2 separate regions of the Homo sapiens genome follow, and region 2 is linked to region 1. The links come from fine-mapping of genetic effects on gene expression. Tissue or cell type: thyroid. Region 1 holds a variant in brackets; the other region holds the start of a gene. All regions are shown on one strand. Distances are between the middles of the regions.

Region 1 (8,109 bases):
GTCCTAATAGCTATGTGTTGTCAAACCAATAATATGATGAGAGTCTTGGATTTGCTGTTCCTTTCCCCAGCTGTAAGAAGAGAAGCCTGGAAGCCCTGTCTATGGGAATGCCAAGAGCCAGCTGAGGTTATATCACAATGCCACCCAGGGCCTCTTACTATGAGAGGAATTGGAAGGTGGGAAGCTGGAGGCAGAAGGCTGGAAAGCCATTAGCTCAGGCTTTCTAATCTTGTAGGACCTTGATTGGGACTTCAGATGTCTTTGCCCAATAAAGTATTTTTTGTCATTAAAATCATGCAAATATAAGAATCAAATGTAAACATTAAAAAAATTCAGAAATATATTGGTAACTGCATCTTGGCACTGTTTTCTGCTGTTGCCTCTCTTCCATCTCCTCCTTCCTTTTCTCCCTCTGTTCCAATGCACTGCGAGCTTCAAAGAATGGAAGCAAACAAGGCCTTTCTCAAACTGTATCAGGTCTCCATACCACCTTCTCTATCAAAGCTCATGTGACCAAGATTTGAGCTGCCTACATTTGTGATTTGGTTATTTGTCAAAAACAAAACAAAACAAACAAACAAACAAAAAGAACTTCAGAATATTAAGTAGGAAAGCACAAGAGCTCTCTAAAGAGACACACATGGCTTTAAACTCCAGCTCTAGAAATACTTCATTAAGCTTCTGTTTCCTCATCTATAAAATGGGGGTAGTAATAATATCTCACTCACAGGACCACTGAGAGGGTTACGTGAGATCATGCATCTGACATTTTACCAGTGTTTGGCATAAGTAAGGGATTATACATGCTAGCCAATATTTTTGGTCTCAAGTCTTAGTATCCAGAAAGCTAGTACTCTAGTAGCCAGAATTTTCCTTTGTGATAAAATCAATTAAAATTTATCATTGTAATCATTTTTAAGCATACAGTTTAGTGGCAGTAAGTGCATTCTCATTGTTGTGCAAACGGAATTTCCTCCTATTATGTGGATAAGACCCTTGAGACCCTGAATCATATCTCAGGACTTGCCCAAAGTCACAGCGAGTCCTGGAACTTACATCTTCCAACCCTTCAGAGTTCCCTAGAATTTCAAAGGCTATCTCCTTGTGCTGACTCAGCTGTTGGAATGAGTAGTGAAGCTATAGACATAAATTATATCATTCATCTAGTCAACACATTCATTCTATAAATATTTTTGAACATCTACCATGGAAAGGACACATGCAAGAGATTAGACAAAAAGCATCTGTTATTTCTTTACAATAGCCTTATCAGTATTTTGGTTAGTTTTTACTTTTGTCCTTTTAGAAATGAGGCCATGAAGATCCAGACAGGTTTGGTAACTCTTCCAAGGCCACAAAGAAAATAGTGAAGATGGGATTCAACACCAGTGGACTATCACTCCAAGAGATTTGCGTTGAATCTGATTACAGGGCTTGTTAAGATTTTTTAGGAATACAGTTTTTTTCCTCAAGCCATAACAACATTATACCAATATGGTGGAGCAGGTCTTTTTTTACCATGGAAAAAAAGAAAACACCCAGATTCTTCTGTGAACCAGAAGTACCTGAAGTGGAAAAGAAATTAAGTCTCATTGTCATACACTGAGAACACTGTTGAATTATCACACCAGGGTATTCTTATGCCATGAGGATGGGGATGATGGTAGTGGTGATGATGATGATGATAATGGTAATGGGAATGGTATGGTGATGATTATAATGCTGATAATTATCAACCATGGATCACCTAGTACATACAAAGCTCTACATTTAGATATATTCATACATGTAATATTTGCTGAGTATCTTCTCTTTGTTAGGCACTAGGAATATAGTAGTAAATAGGACAGCTATACAAGGTTCCTGTTCTCATGGAATTTACAATCTAATGAACGATAAGATTTTAAACAAATAATTGCATATAGTAATCCTCAAACAGCCATATGAAGTTGGAATGATGACAATAATAACAAAACTACCAAGACTCTTCTATTACTGAGTACCTATTATGTGCCAGACACTCTTCTAGCTGCTTTACATACAAAATATTTTGTTCTACAGGTTACACAACCTTAATGGGCACCAGTTTCCTCCCAGCAAATATGAGCACAGATGGGTTTTTCTTACACCAAAGACTTTCCATCATACTCTGCTCTTAGGCTAGCCTTGGATTTATTTTCTACCCAGGCCATTTGTTCTTCCCATCCAGGGTTGGGATCTCGATATGTGGGCTAGGATACCAAAGGGTTTGGGTGCTCACCTTCTAATGGCCACCAGGTCTCTGTAAGCAAACACTCTTTTTTCATGTAGCCAACATAAAGGGAGACAGAGATTCCCAGCCACAACACTGGAATCTTCATGGGGGCTGTGTGCAGGTTTCTTCATCTTCTCCACCCTATAGAGCCCTGGAGAAGATGCCATCTCCATTACAGCGGGGCTTTCCCAGGACATGGAGGTAATTAGGCATGATCTTGGTCATTCTTTTGGAAGAGTCAGGGATATCTCCATATTCCTGAATATCCTAGGCAAGATGGCAATAAATTCATTAATAATATTATCCAAAATTTGTGCAGCCTGCTTCAGCTTACCTCTCACTAGCTCATAGGTTATCTCAGGTGATCCTCATTAAAATCCCTGTAGGGTATCTTTATTTATAGATGAAACTCAGCAGCCCTGTAGAGAAGCCCACATGATGAGGAGCTAACGCTTCTTGCCAACAGCCACGTGAGTGATGTTGGAAGCAAATATTCTAGCTCTGGTGGAGTCTTCAGATGACTGCAGCCCTGATTGACACATTGACTGCAACGTCAAGAAAGACTGCATCAGAAACACCCAGTTAAGCCACTCCTAGATTTGTGACTCTCAGAAACCATGAGATATAATAACGTTTGTTGTTTTAAGTGGCTAAATTTTTGAATACTTTGTTAAGCAGCAGTGGATAACTCATACGAAATTTAAGAATACAGAAATTCATTTTTGGAGTCAGACAGTTCTGGATTTGCATTCTGGTTTTGCCAGTTATGAGCTTTGTAACCTCGGGCAACTCATTCCACATCTCTAAGCCTCAATTTCCTCATCTGCAAAATGGAGGTAATAATGGTATTTGTACCCTAGGGTTTTTCCCCCTGAGTAATTGAAATGGTGCTTGTTAAACACAATGCTTGGCACCTAGTACGTAGTCAGTAAATGGAAGCTATAATTATTGTTATTATAATCTTTTGAGCTCATTTGGCAAATATTTAAAATACTGATTCTTCTTAAAGTGCCGACTACAAGCGTTGCTCAATTGGATTATGCAAAAGGAATTTTTTTACGAGGGAGGCATGCTCAGTCAGAGAACACAGGTCTTGCTTGAGATTGCCCGTGGTGCTGAAGGACAAGCCAAGATTAAAGAGTCAACCAGCAGTTGACTGAGCTTTTTTCTCCTTGTCCACAAAATGCTGATGAACAGCATTTTGTAATGTAATTAAGATTACACTGAAGAATGAGCCCTCTATCACCCCATCATTCAATCACCTTTTCCTTTACCAGCAGGAGCCAAGAGCTCGGCTTTACCTTCCCCTACAAACAACCACCTGACCCCCAGCTCATTAGTGCCATCCCTGGGATAGTATTCATTGATTTTAGGGACCAGAGTCCAATATTTCTCTCCCATCTGTCTTTATGGTCTGCACCGAGGTCAAAGTTAACTACATACTCATTTTCCGGGAGGACATTTCCTGATGCGAGAGTGATTAGAAACTTCTTCTTACTTCCCATTCTTCATACTCAAGTTTCTGTTCTTCTTGGCCCAATGGTTCATTCTATCTGTGTAATCTGAGGGCAGGTGTAGAAAATGGCTTACCTTGAAAACCATAA[A/G]TTATCTGTACTCATCACTTTCAGAACAGGACTCATTAAAAAAACTTATTTCCCACAACAGTGTTCAGAGAGATGAGTTGCCTTTTAGCACACTAACACCTCTGCCTCTTTTAAGACCATTGAGCTTACTTCTTAGACCAATGTAGTAAGTCAATCCATACTTATCAAAACAAACATTTTGATGTGACTATCTTCTTAAGTGGTAAGTGACTTTTTCATGGAGAAGTTTAAGATGATTATACCTTTTTGGAAATAATCCCAACTCTTGATAAGCATACTGCTGGCCTAGGGGACAAGGGATTTGCCTGTTTGTTGTGGCGTGGCAACGGATGAGCTCTGTGAATCTGGGCAGGTCACGACATCTAAGTCAAATCAGTTTCCTCATCCATGAAATGGGGATACCTGCTCACCTACTCTTCAAAGTTTTCATAAAAATCAAATGGTATGGTATCAACAAAGTACTCTAAAAATAATTTAAATAGCTTCAATGTATATAAACATTCCAGTTATAAGAAATTCCGCAATAAATAAACCAGGTTTTACTAATATTCCTCCAACACACAAAACAAAACAATGATATTTGAGTGATATATGCAATATGTGTATTTATTTATTTGGAGACTGGGTCTCACTCTGTTGCCTAAGCTGGAGTACAGTGGCACAATCATGCCTCACCGAAGCCTTGACCTCCCTGGGCTCAGGTTATCCTCCCACCTCAGCCTCCCTAGAAGCTGGGACCCCAGGCACATGCCACCAAACCATGGCTAACTTCTGTATTTTTTTGTAGAGACAGTGTTTCGTCATGTTGTTCAGGCTAGTCTCAAACTCCTATGCTCAAGTGATCCACCCTCCTTGGCCTCCCAAAGTTCTGGAATTACAGGCTTGGCCCCATAAGTGTAAATAATAAAACTGTATGGATAAAAGAGAAATTAAGAATTTACATTTGGCAAAGGAACTGAAGAAAGAAAGTTAACACAAAGATGACAGATTGTCAAAATATAGGCCAGAAAACCTTAAAGTAGGTATCTTGAATCACAAGAAAATCAGACAAATACCAGTAGTTAGTCTCCCATTATCTGAGGCCTTGTTTTCCATGGTTGCAGTTATCCTTGGTACAGTAGGTACAGTAAAATAAGATATTTTCAGAGAGAGAGAGAGATTCACATTACTTTTATTATAGTATATTGCTATAATTGTCCTATTATATTAGTTGTTGTTAATCTTTTACTATGCTAAACTTATAAATTAACTTTATTATAGGTAGGTATTCTGAGGAACAAACATAGGGTTTGATATTCTCTGTGGTTTCAGGCCTCCACTGGGGGGTCTTGGAACATATCTCCCACAGACAAGTGAGGACTGCTATAAACAGAAAAAAAAGGCATGACCACCTTCCCTGCCCCTGCCACATCCCCACTCCTGCCTCCAAATCTAAGGATTTAAACAGGTTTCTCTCAAAATGAGAAATGTAACTGGCTAAGGAGTATGAAACTATGCTCAAAGTCCCTGATTATCAGAAAATGCACATTAAAACAGTCAGATACAACTTTACATCCATCAGATTGGCCAAAATTAGAAATCTGGATAATGCCATGCACTCTGCAGAGAGTAGACAATGGTTTCCCCATCTGGGCTACAATCTGGCAACATGGAGTGAAAGGAGGCCCTCACCTGCTCTATGATCCAGGAAGCTCCATCTTTGGTCTAAAGCAGATAAATTCTTCCCAGTTATTTATATGAGGCAACCCACATGTATTTGACTAGGGTAGTAGGTAAGTAAAATGTGATGGAATGCTAGGCATCAAATAGAACCTTGAGCTAGATGTACACATAGTAACATGGTTAGATTTCAGAAGCAGTGTTGAATAAAAATGAAAAACGATGAGGTCTTAGAGCACAATATCATTTGTATGGATTGCATATATATCCACACTCAATAGTATATATTAAAAATATATCAAATGTATTGGCATTTTTGCATTAGTGGGTAGGGAACAGATGTGAAATTTGAAAACAAGGAGGGGAAAAATCCACAAGAGTCCCTTGAAAGAGCCGAAAAAATGGTATGCCATGAATCAAGTAGCACTGCTAACTCAACTCTGTGCACCTGAGATGCAAAAAGATAACCTGCATGCACTGTACCACTCCATTTTTTTTAAAAAAAACTATATACTCAGGTGCACATATACACTTGAAAGATCAAAGGCATTTGCAATGAAATATTAACAGTTGTTATTTCTGGGTGCTGGCACGGGATATAACTGTTATTTTCTTCTTTTGCTTATTATCTGCATATTCTAGACTTTCTACAGTGGATCTGCATTCCATTTATATGAAGGAAACAACTTCATATAAAATTACTTAAAAATCCTGGAGATATATGTCATGTTTTCCTGTCTCAGTAATCTGCACACATACCCAGAGTGTGAAACTTTGAAGGATTATGTCCCTGAAAGATGACACAAGTCTTCTGGTTGTTCTTCTCATGGAAATGGAGAGGTGTAAAACTTTAAAGAGCTGAGCTTTTGGCAGTTGTATTTACCAAAAGAAAGAAATCTGCATGAAGAGAGAGAAAATGGCACATTGGGACAATGATTTTCTTTCATTGGCTCCCACAAGATGCACAACTTCTCTTCCCTGGCACACAGTTTCAGCAAGGTTTATTTCTGGAAATAAGAGATGAAGCCGAGTTTTATATCTCAGAGTTAAGGGAACCCTGAGAATAATACCTAAGGGTTCTTAGAATCCACAGCAATTCTGACTTTCACATCCATCTTATACAGGTCTTCATCATGACCACATCATGACTTTTTGATCCCTGATTTACTTCAACCAGCAGCCATTGTTGGAGTACATACTGCGCATATATAAAGGTGCTAATTCATTTAACTTTCCAAAAAACCCTTTGAGATGGGTATTCTTGTTATCAATATTAGCAGGTTAGAAAATTAAAGCACAGACAGTTTAAAAATTTGCCCAAATTCACACAGTTAGTAAGGAGCAGATTGAAGATTTAATCCAGCCTGGCTTCAGAACCTAGTCTTAGTGGGTGGCTAAAGACCATTGTCTCTAGGAACTGCCAGATCTCTTTTCCCCTGCTAGAAATCCATTTGCAAGGAACACTTATATATCTGTCTTCTTCCATTCAGGTGTCAAATAATGCCATTGGCTTTTTTAATCACTGGGATTTTGAAACATTTGCAGTCCTTTCCATGGTGTGGCCCTTTCTGTAATTTTTTTTCACAAGGAATAAAATCTAATCACATTGATAGATGAAATACATATGTTGTTAATAATGATTATCGTAGCTAAAATTAAAATTCCTCTGAAAGAGGGAACCATCTTTGTTGGATAAAATTTTGTGATGAGCTCTACAGGGTAGAATGAGGACTAGTGCTCAAAACCATAAAAGTTGATGATAAAATGCCCTGAGTGAGATAGTAAGAGGAATTTTGTTTTGTGCCCAGAAGGAAAGTAGAGCGAAAACTAGGAAAGGAGAAGGAGAATTTATAGAGAGAAACCAAAAGAAGGCATAAATATCTGAAGGAATACCAGACACTAGCCCTGTGTAGGGTTTTATAAACAGGGATGTCCAAGGATAAATCTGAAGGTCTACAGACAACTTCTCTTCCTGGCACACATTCTCAATAGGGTTTATTTTTGGAAATAGGAGAGGAGGGTGAGTTTTATATCACAGAGGCAGCATGTGTGGAAGCCCAGAGTTAAGGGAACTCTGAGAATACTTAAGGCTTCTTTGAATCCACAGCAATCCTGACTTTCACACCCATCTTATTTAATATCTAGGTCTTCATCATGACCACCGCTGGCAAGCCATTTATTTTCTGCTTCACCAGGCAAACAAAACCAGGGCATGCCAAGGTAGGCAGATAATTATGTTTTTTGGAGACAAGATATCAAAGTTTACTAAGAAGCCTCGAGTTTCTGTGATTAGACACTGAGGTCAGAGCAGTTTTCAGAAGAGCTTCTCCAGCAACAGTGAACTTATTCAACAGCCTAGATCACCTGAAGATGGGAATTATGGAACCAAAAACATTAGGCCTACCGGTAATATAGTCTGGATGCCGCAAGGGGAGGAAGGGAGTGTAACAATTTGGCCATAAACTGTCCCAGCCACGTTACACGGTTCATTTTATGTAACTCTTATAACCCTGGGAGGTGGAGATTATTATTCCCGTTTATACAGGAGGAATCTGAGCTCAGAGAGATTAAATCATTTGGGCAACATTTCAT
Region 2 (8,109 bases), 380 kb after region 1:
GTACAAGTGATATTTACTTAGGATGCAGGTTCCAGACACCCTTCTAGAAGCCCTCTCCTTTATTTAATCCTCACAATGAGCAGGGCACGGTGGCTCACTCCTGTAATCCCAGCACTTTGGGAGGCCGAGGCGGGCGGATCACGAGGTTAGGAGATGGAGACCATCCTGGCTAACATGGTGAAACTCTGTCTCTACTAAAAGTACAAAAAAATCAGCCGGGCGTGGTAGCAGGCACCTGTAGCCCAGCTACTCGGGAGGCTGAGGCAGGAAAATGGCGTGAACCCGGGAGGCGGAGCTTGCAGTGAGCCGAGATCGCGCCACTGCATTCCAGCCTGGGCGACAGAGCAAGACTCCGTCTCAAAAAAAAAAAAAAAAATCCTCACAATGTTCCCAGGAGGAAAGCAGTAGTGAGCCCATTTTTTCCAGATGTGGAGACTAAAGCTTAGAATGTTAAGCAATTCGAACTGTATTTTCTATTCCAGTTCCTCTGGCAAAACTCCTTATTCTCTGAAGCAGCATTTCTCAATAAGTTGGGTAAACTGATCATTACTTGGCCATGGCTTGGCCTCGTTATACGGGATGGCCATGCGCTGCAGGACATTTATTATCTGTGGCCATGGGCACAAAATACCAACAGCAGCCCCCAGCAGCAGTTCCTACATATCCCAAATGTGTCCAGGGACAATGTCACCCAGCAGTAGAGGTAAACTGTTCTAAAAGATTTTTTGGGCATCAAGACAAAAGACTGAAGAGAAGGGCACTTCGAGGTGGGCAGATCACGAGGTCAGGAGATCGAGACCATCCTGGCTAACATGGTGAAACTCCGTCTCTACTAAAAATACCAAAAAAATTAGCCAGGCATGGTGGCGGGTGCCTATAGTCCCAGCTACTTGGGAGGCTGAGGCAGGAGAATGGCGTGAACCTGGGAGGCGGAGCTTGCAGTGAGCTGAGACCGCGCCACTGTACTCTAGCCTGGGCGACAGAGCAAGACTCTGTCTCAAAAAAAAAAAAAAAAAAATCTCCCATCCTCAAATCTGTCAGAAATCCCTTATTGTATCACATTTAGGCTTCCAAGAAAGCCCCATGTACCCTTATAGAACCAGTTACAAAACCTCCATGAATATATTTGCCATGCAATTCATGAGCATTGAGTACCTATTATGGGCAAAGTACTGTGCTATGAGCTAGGAATATAAAGTCCAAGTCTAACCCCCAAGGGGGTTAGAGTCTAGTAAGAGGCAGATTAAGTATGATAAGTATTAAGATAAATGTGAGCAGGAGGCACTTCCCATAGACTGGAAAGAGTGCTGAGAAGGCAGAAGAAAAAGGAGGGCTGGGACAGTTTCCCAGAGGAAGTGACATTTTCCCAAAGGCTTGAAAGACCAAGTAGGAGTAACCAGGAAGGGACTGGTCCAGGCTGATATCTTTGCAAAGACCAAAGATAGGAATCATATTTGAAGTTAAAGTTTAAAATACTTCCTTCATTCTTTGAGACCTCATTGTGATTCAAACTCAGGATCTCCTGTTTACTAGACAGGTACTTTAACCAAGTCACTAGAAAATAAACTCTCCATAGTCCACATGTACTTCCTTCCTAAGTTCTTGTTTTTGTAAAGTCTGGCTTCACTGGTGTAATCACCCATCACGCAAGAAATAAGACAAATTTATACTTCTTACAGGGAACAAGAAATTGTTTTCGAGAACAGTGTGGACTAGCAACAAAGAGGAGTGTCCCTGTCTTGGGGACACAGGAGTGGTGAAGACGAGAGATCATAATCAGTGTCACCTGATGGGTGACATAGAACGGACACTTAAGGAGTAGGTCAACATATCCTTGGTCTCAAGCTCAAGATGAACTTTATCTCGGCTTTTGTTTTGTTCTTTGGCATCTGAAGTCTTGACTATCAAGCATAACGATGCAAAAAAAAAAAAAAAAAAAAAAAAAAGATTCTCACCCTACTGGTACATTTGCACAGAAAAGAAAACCTAGAAAAATCTTGATTGTAAGAGAGAGAGAGGATTTCATTTTTGTTAATAAAGTTAGGAAAGCTGGAAGTGGCTGGCTGTGGATCTCTGAACCTGAGATAGCCCAAAGGCAAGAGTTTCCCGAGTTTATGGGTGCTGAGTATAGGAGCTGGGTTGTTGCTACTTCAGGTTGTTAAGACAGTCGTTATAAGGGGAGCAAGAGTCAGATTAGTTCAATTTCTTTCTCCTGGGGCAGGGAGGAGAGGGAGCAGCAAGCCAGCCTCGTGGCCTTCTCGTCTCTAGCCTACAAGGAATAGGCTGATTTCCCCTTGGCAAGGCGCCTGAAGCAGCTGGCAGGCAAGCCCTCCTCTTCCTACTTCAGTACGCCCTCTGACCTGACTGCACTCAGAAACCAAAATTCTGCAGGTGAATGTAGGCTCCCATTTCGTCCCACAATCATTTCATCATTCAGGCACAGCTTGACCTCTAATGTGACATCACAAACCCTTCCGGTCCACAGTTTTTTTTTCTTCTTCAGAAACTACCTAAACAAGGAAGTTTGTGTTCCAAGGTAAGATAACCTGAAATGAAAAACTCAGGATCCCTCACGAACAGCCTGACCCTGCTTTCAACCAGGAAGTTCAAGGGAGGCAGGACTTTACGGTCAAAACTGCAAAGCCGAAGCTCAAGACTGTAAGAAGAAAGTGATCTTCAAAGAAAAGGATTCACCCAAATCGAAGAGGTTGTTGCACTTCTTTTCCCTGGCTGATTACATTTCATGTCTGTAAACTTTGCTAAGCCCGGGGCGCTGGCTGTATAAGCAGAGACAGGTGTAGGGACACCTCTACCCTCTGGGTACATCTGCGGCCGCCGCTGCTGGGTGCATAGGACGAAGGGCCCTCGACCCAATCCCAGTCCAAGCTTCCGGATGACGCACCTGGGCTGGGGACCTCTCCCACGTGAGGGGGGCCAACCAAGCATCCCCAGCCCCGGGGCCACCCAGCCTGCTCCGGAGGGAGGGGGCAGGGAAAAAGGGCATCTCGGGGCCAAAACCTCATGCCGGATCCTCCGGCTTTCCCCCCATTTCCAGGATATCGTTTCGCATCAGGGACACTCGTCTCCACACCTCCTACCTCAAAGTCCTACGCACCTACCCTTCACGTCTCTCCAAAGCAACTGAATTAAAGCGCCTACTGGCCTTGGCGGCGCAGGTGAGTGCCAAGAGGTGGAGGAGGAAGGGGCCCGCTCTCCGCCACCCCCTTTCCTCGCCTCCCCACGATCGCCAAGCTTCATCGGGGATGTGTGCCTTGGGGTGCGCGGGTTAAGAGGGAGCTTAAAAATGCCCCAAGCGTCCCTTACCTTCCACAGCCATTCTCTCAGAGCTTCCCTAACGCATGCATAATTTTCTTGGCCGAGGTACTCCTCCTGCCCCGCGCTCCCCCCTTCCTCTCGCTTTCGCCTAAATATTCTGCGCTTATCTGCTCCAGGACCAACCTGCCGCGGTCACGCAAAGCGAGGCAGCCGGCTCCCGGCTCGGCGCGCGCAGGGCGTCCTGGGAAGTGTAGTTCCCTCCCTTCGCTCGGACTGGGGAGAGCACCCCGACTCCTCCGCGGAGTGCCGCCTGGCCCCGACACTTGGAGAGCAACTCCAGCTTCAGCTGGCCAGGCCGAGCAATCTCTCCTGGGGAAGTTGTGAGGGGACCAGGGATGCCTGGTTGTGGCGGGGCGGGGGGGGAGGGGGGGGGGGTTCCCGGGAAGCGGTCTGGACTACATCTCCCAGGAGGCCGTGCGCTGAGATAGGTTCGCTGCTAAGAGTAGGGACCCGTGATTGAGCCCTTCCCTGTCCATTACAAGGGGTTTGGCACCTAGCAGGTGTGGTGAGGTGGGCAGGTGACGGTCAGCTGTGTGATGAGCTCCTGCGAGCTCGTCCGTGGGCCTCTGCCGCCGGTACCGCCCCGCCCCCTGGCCTCCTGAACCACCATTTAGTAGGGAGAGCAGGACCACTGTCCTCCTGTGTGGTTCTCCACCTGGGCCAGAGAACGCTGCCCAGGGTGAGGTTGAAACTTGTTCCTTCGCACCCTGAGATGTATGGGTTTTGTGGGGGAATTCCGACGGTTGATACAGTTGTCTTATCCTACAGGGTGGTTCAGGTGGCTAAATACTTGGCATGGGGGTGTAGGGGAGGAGGAGTGGCTTAAACCCCAATAGGCAACGTCCCCAAGGGGTTGTTAGGAACAAAGTCTGGGAGCCAGGATTGCACCGGAGGAGGTCAGATGAAAGCCTGTCTGGCTTCCAGGATAGGAGGCTTTCAATTTGCCTAGACTTGGAGCCTGTTGACAGCCTGTGATAGGGCCTAATAATTAACAGTGCCTGAGAATCAGGTTCCTTCAACTTCTGAACCTATGTCCTAGCTGTAGGTGCTGGGGATGCTATAAGCAGACATGATAATGGGAATCACGTGGATAGCAATACAATTCGACAGCTCGTAAAAATTAAGTTTCTAAACATTTTTTCCTGCGTGTGAAAATACGGATACAGTTGTGGCTGGAAGGGGTAAGGGAATAGCCTCGGGAATAAATCTGGCTCAAGACTGGATTGACTTTTAAAGGCCTTCAGTTTACAAATGTATTTGGTACCACATCCACCCAGTCACTCATATATAATGTTAATCTCTGTAAAATGAGGAAGTACAAAAATCGGATTCTTCCCATGATGACTACTTAGACATTTTTGTGTGTCTTGGTCATCAGCAAAAAAAAAAAAATGTTTTTCAAAACAATTTCGTTTCTCAGTGTATACATGCACACCTGTTGTTCTGGTCACTAATTACATGCTTAGTTCCCCTACTGGGTAATATATAATAATAATATGTGTATAGGTACTTTAAAAAATACCTGCGTGTAACCATTAAATGCTCTTGTTGATACTTTAATTCTGAGTCCATGGAGCTGTGTACAAGTCAAACCTAAGCCTCTCTTTTAGGTACAGTAGAGAGAGACCCATTCAGTGAGACATAATTTCCATGGGAAAAAGAATTTTCCGACCTAATACACAGCCAAGCATTCTAAACTCTGGAAAGAACTGAAATCCAGGTGCTTCACTACTTTATGTATATAAAATCACCAAAGTGTTAAGTATTTTCTGAGATTGAATGAATGTGAAAGAAAGCCATAGGACAGGTAGTATCAATGGTTCTCAACCTTGGCTGTGCATCAGCCTTCTACAAATATATATTCCTAAGCTTTTATCTTAGTCTCACAGAATCAGAGCTTATGGGGGTTTGGGTAGAGGCACTCAGGTTTTAAAAACCCACAGGTGATTCCAGTCTTCATTGAGGGTGAAAACCATTGGTCTGGTTCCAAGCTTTTAAATATCTGGGTGATATAAAAATATAAAAGTCATTGAAATCTGTGGTTAATTTTAAAACTTCATCTTAGCTCATCTTTAATATTTTTCCCAGTGATGTGCATTCTAGACGAGTTTTATTTTTAGTATAAATAAAATGTGAAGGAGATGTTAGTTTCTACCATATGAAATAGCCAATGTTTGACCATTTTTAAAACCTACAAATAGAACAATTTCATGTGGTTCTGCCTAATAAGGGATAAACAATAGTTGCGCAGAGGTTTTCAATTCTGGCTGAACATTAGAATCACCTGGGAAGTACTAAAAAAAAATTACATTTATCTCTAGAATGTTTGAAAGATAAAGACACAAAATACCAACCGTTGGCAAGATTGTGAAGCAATAAAGATTTATATATTGCTGGTGGTGTGCAAATTCACAAAACCACTTTGGAAAACCATCTGAAATATTCAGCTGAATATATGCTTATCCTGTGACCCAGAAGTTCTACTCCTAGGTTTACACCAAACAAATATGCATACAGATGTTCTCCAAAAGACATGTGCAAGAATGTTTGTGGCTGCATTATTTTAATGTTCCCAAATGGAAAACAACTCAAATATTTATCAACACAGATTGGAGAGATGAACTGTGGTATAACCAAATAATTCCATATAGCAGGGGTCAACAAACTAAGACCAATGAGCCAAATATGGCTCACCATTTATTTCTTATAACTCACCAGCTAGGTGTGATTTTTACATTTTTAAATGGTTGGAAAAAAAACAAAAAAAGTATAATTTGCAAAGCCTGGAAATTATAAAGACATACTTACATAATATCCTCAATTTTGCCTCTTGTCCTACAAAGCCTCAAATATTTCCTACCTGATCCTTTGCAGAAAAAAAGCTTTCCAAACCCTCCTATAAAGTAATGCAAATGAAGGAATTACAATTGTATACAACAACATGATGAGCCACATGTATTAATCGATTGCTGTTAACAAATTATCCCAATATTTAGTGGTTTACAACAATACCCATGTATTACTTCAGTTTCTGTGGCTCAGTAATTTGGGCACAGCTTAGCTTCTGCTTTAGTATCTTTCACAGACTGCAATCATGACTTATTTTTGGTCTTTTTTATCAGCAGCCAAGTACAGTTCCTAACAGATATACCCAATTTTAGCAAGGGGCAAAGTCCAGACCTCATCCCATACCTCTCATAAGCCAAATTCTGTGTTCATTATGATGCTATTGTTTGTTCCTTATAGTATATAAGCACTTCGAGTGCTGGAACTGAGTCTTATGCTTCATATCTTCCAGATTCTTGGTCATAATTGTGGTTACATAGTAAGTACTCAATAGATAATTTATTACTACTATTTTTTTATCCTTGTTATAAGTAGCATTTGTTGGGAAATTACAAGTGCCAAGCTCTGTCTAAGCATCTTGACATACATCATCTCCTTTAATCACTACAATATTGTCAGATATCACTATTTTCCAGATGAGGAAATTGAAGCTCAGTGAATTTAAGTAATTTGCCCCATGTCTCCAAAACATGAATTGTAGCAAGGGGATTGAGGTCTACCTAAGTGTAGAACTCTGTGATGTTACTCCATCTAGATTTCAATACTGATTACGTGATCACAAATCTGAATTCATAAGCACTTGGCCAAATAGGAATTGTCATTACTAATAAAATGAAGGGTTTAAAATATTTTAATATCAGAAATTGTGATATTTAGAATGATTCAAAAATTTCTGAATATATCAGAGAGCACAGAAAGGGAAGGAAAAGCCCATTACCTTATAGTGAATTAAATAAAAAAAGAAATATTGAGATGAGGCTACAGATTTCACTGGATTCTAAGATTTAAAATAGTACATATAAGTACTTTACTGTATTTATTGTTCTAACTCGGTTGCTATATTCACAAGCCTCTACAGAAAACATTCATAAATCTCAAAAAGTAAATAGATTATGTTTCTATTCTGTTCAGGGAGATCTTCTAAACCTAACCAAAAGGATTCAAACCCTAAAAAGTAAAATTTTTGACAGGAGGAACTGAGAGGAAAAAAATAATTTTTTTGTAATTAAGATAAAAAATACTAACTCTAATCCTTGAGTCATGAATAAAGTGCCAACCATTCAAGTTATATCAGGCTTCCATTGGAGGAAGTAAGCATATTTCAGGGAACATGATTTAAGCAAAAGCCTAGTTGTTTTTGCTTAAATCACATTGTGCATAATTAAATCGCATTGTGTGTTATCTGTTTGTTGATAAGTTGGTGATATTCTATACCATCGTTCGTCTAAACTATACTTTCAAAATCAGACTTAAATTATGTCTTCAAAATTTGAGCAGAATCTGTCTACCTTTATATTAACTGGTTATCTGAATATTTGGCTTCAGTACTCAAGTTTCGTAGACATACAGAACTAGATTGTAATCCTGACTCTCATTTACTCGATGTTGGTTATTAGCAAAGTTCTTTGACATTTCTGTGCCTTGGTTTTCCCACATGTATTGTAATGCTATTAATTGTGTAATGTATACATTACCTAGCTCACAGTTTGGGGCTCAGCAGTGACTGAGAGAGTATCTATAGTGTTGTGCGCTGTCCTGGCACATAATGGATGCCCAATAAGTGTTTGCTCTTTTGATCATCCATGGAAGCCTGAGAGGCCATTCCCAAAGAACATGGATATAATTCAGTTAAGCAGTAGCAAGGGCCTCAGGATATTTGCCAAGTGTGGAGTAAGTCTGCCCAGTCCGACTTGTAGTTAAGCCACT

Evidence for each region. PIP is the estimated chance that this variant, and not a neighbour inherited with it, causes the effect.
Region 2: it holds the start of SAMD12, and the variant in region 1 is fine-mapped to the expression of SAMD12 in thyroid (GTEx, PIP 0.99).

The regions. Positions count from the first base shown.
Region 1 is chr8:118,237,455-118,245,563 of GRCh38, forward strand. It overlaps a transcript of SAMD12 not described here. Among named protein-coding and RNA genes, the nearest start is that of EXT1, 130 kb to the left of the region's middle. The variant A/G (reference allele first, on the strand shown) is at 3,859.
Region 2 is chr8:118,618,480-118,626,588 of GRCh38, forward strand. SAMD12 (sterile alpha motif domain containing 12) reads right to left here and starts at 3,484. Exons shown (of 4, transcript NM_207506.3): 1 at 3,325-3,484. The coding sequence starts at 3,337. It overlaps SAMD12-AS1 (SAMD12 antisense RNA 1), which reads left to right and starts at 2,522. Exons shown (of 5, transcript NR_038210.1): 1 at 2,522-2,707; 2 at 3,056-3,176. RefSeq lists enhancers at 2,477-2,526, 2,557-2,766, 3,377-3,576 and a silencer at 3,677-3,826.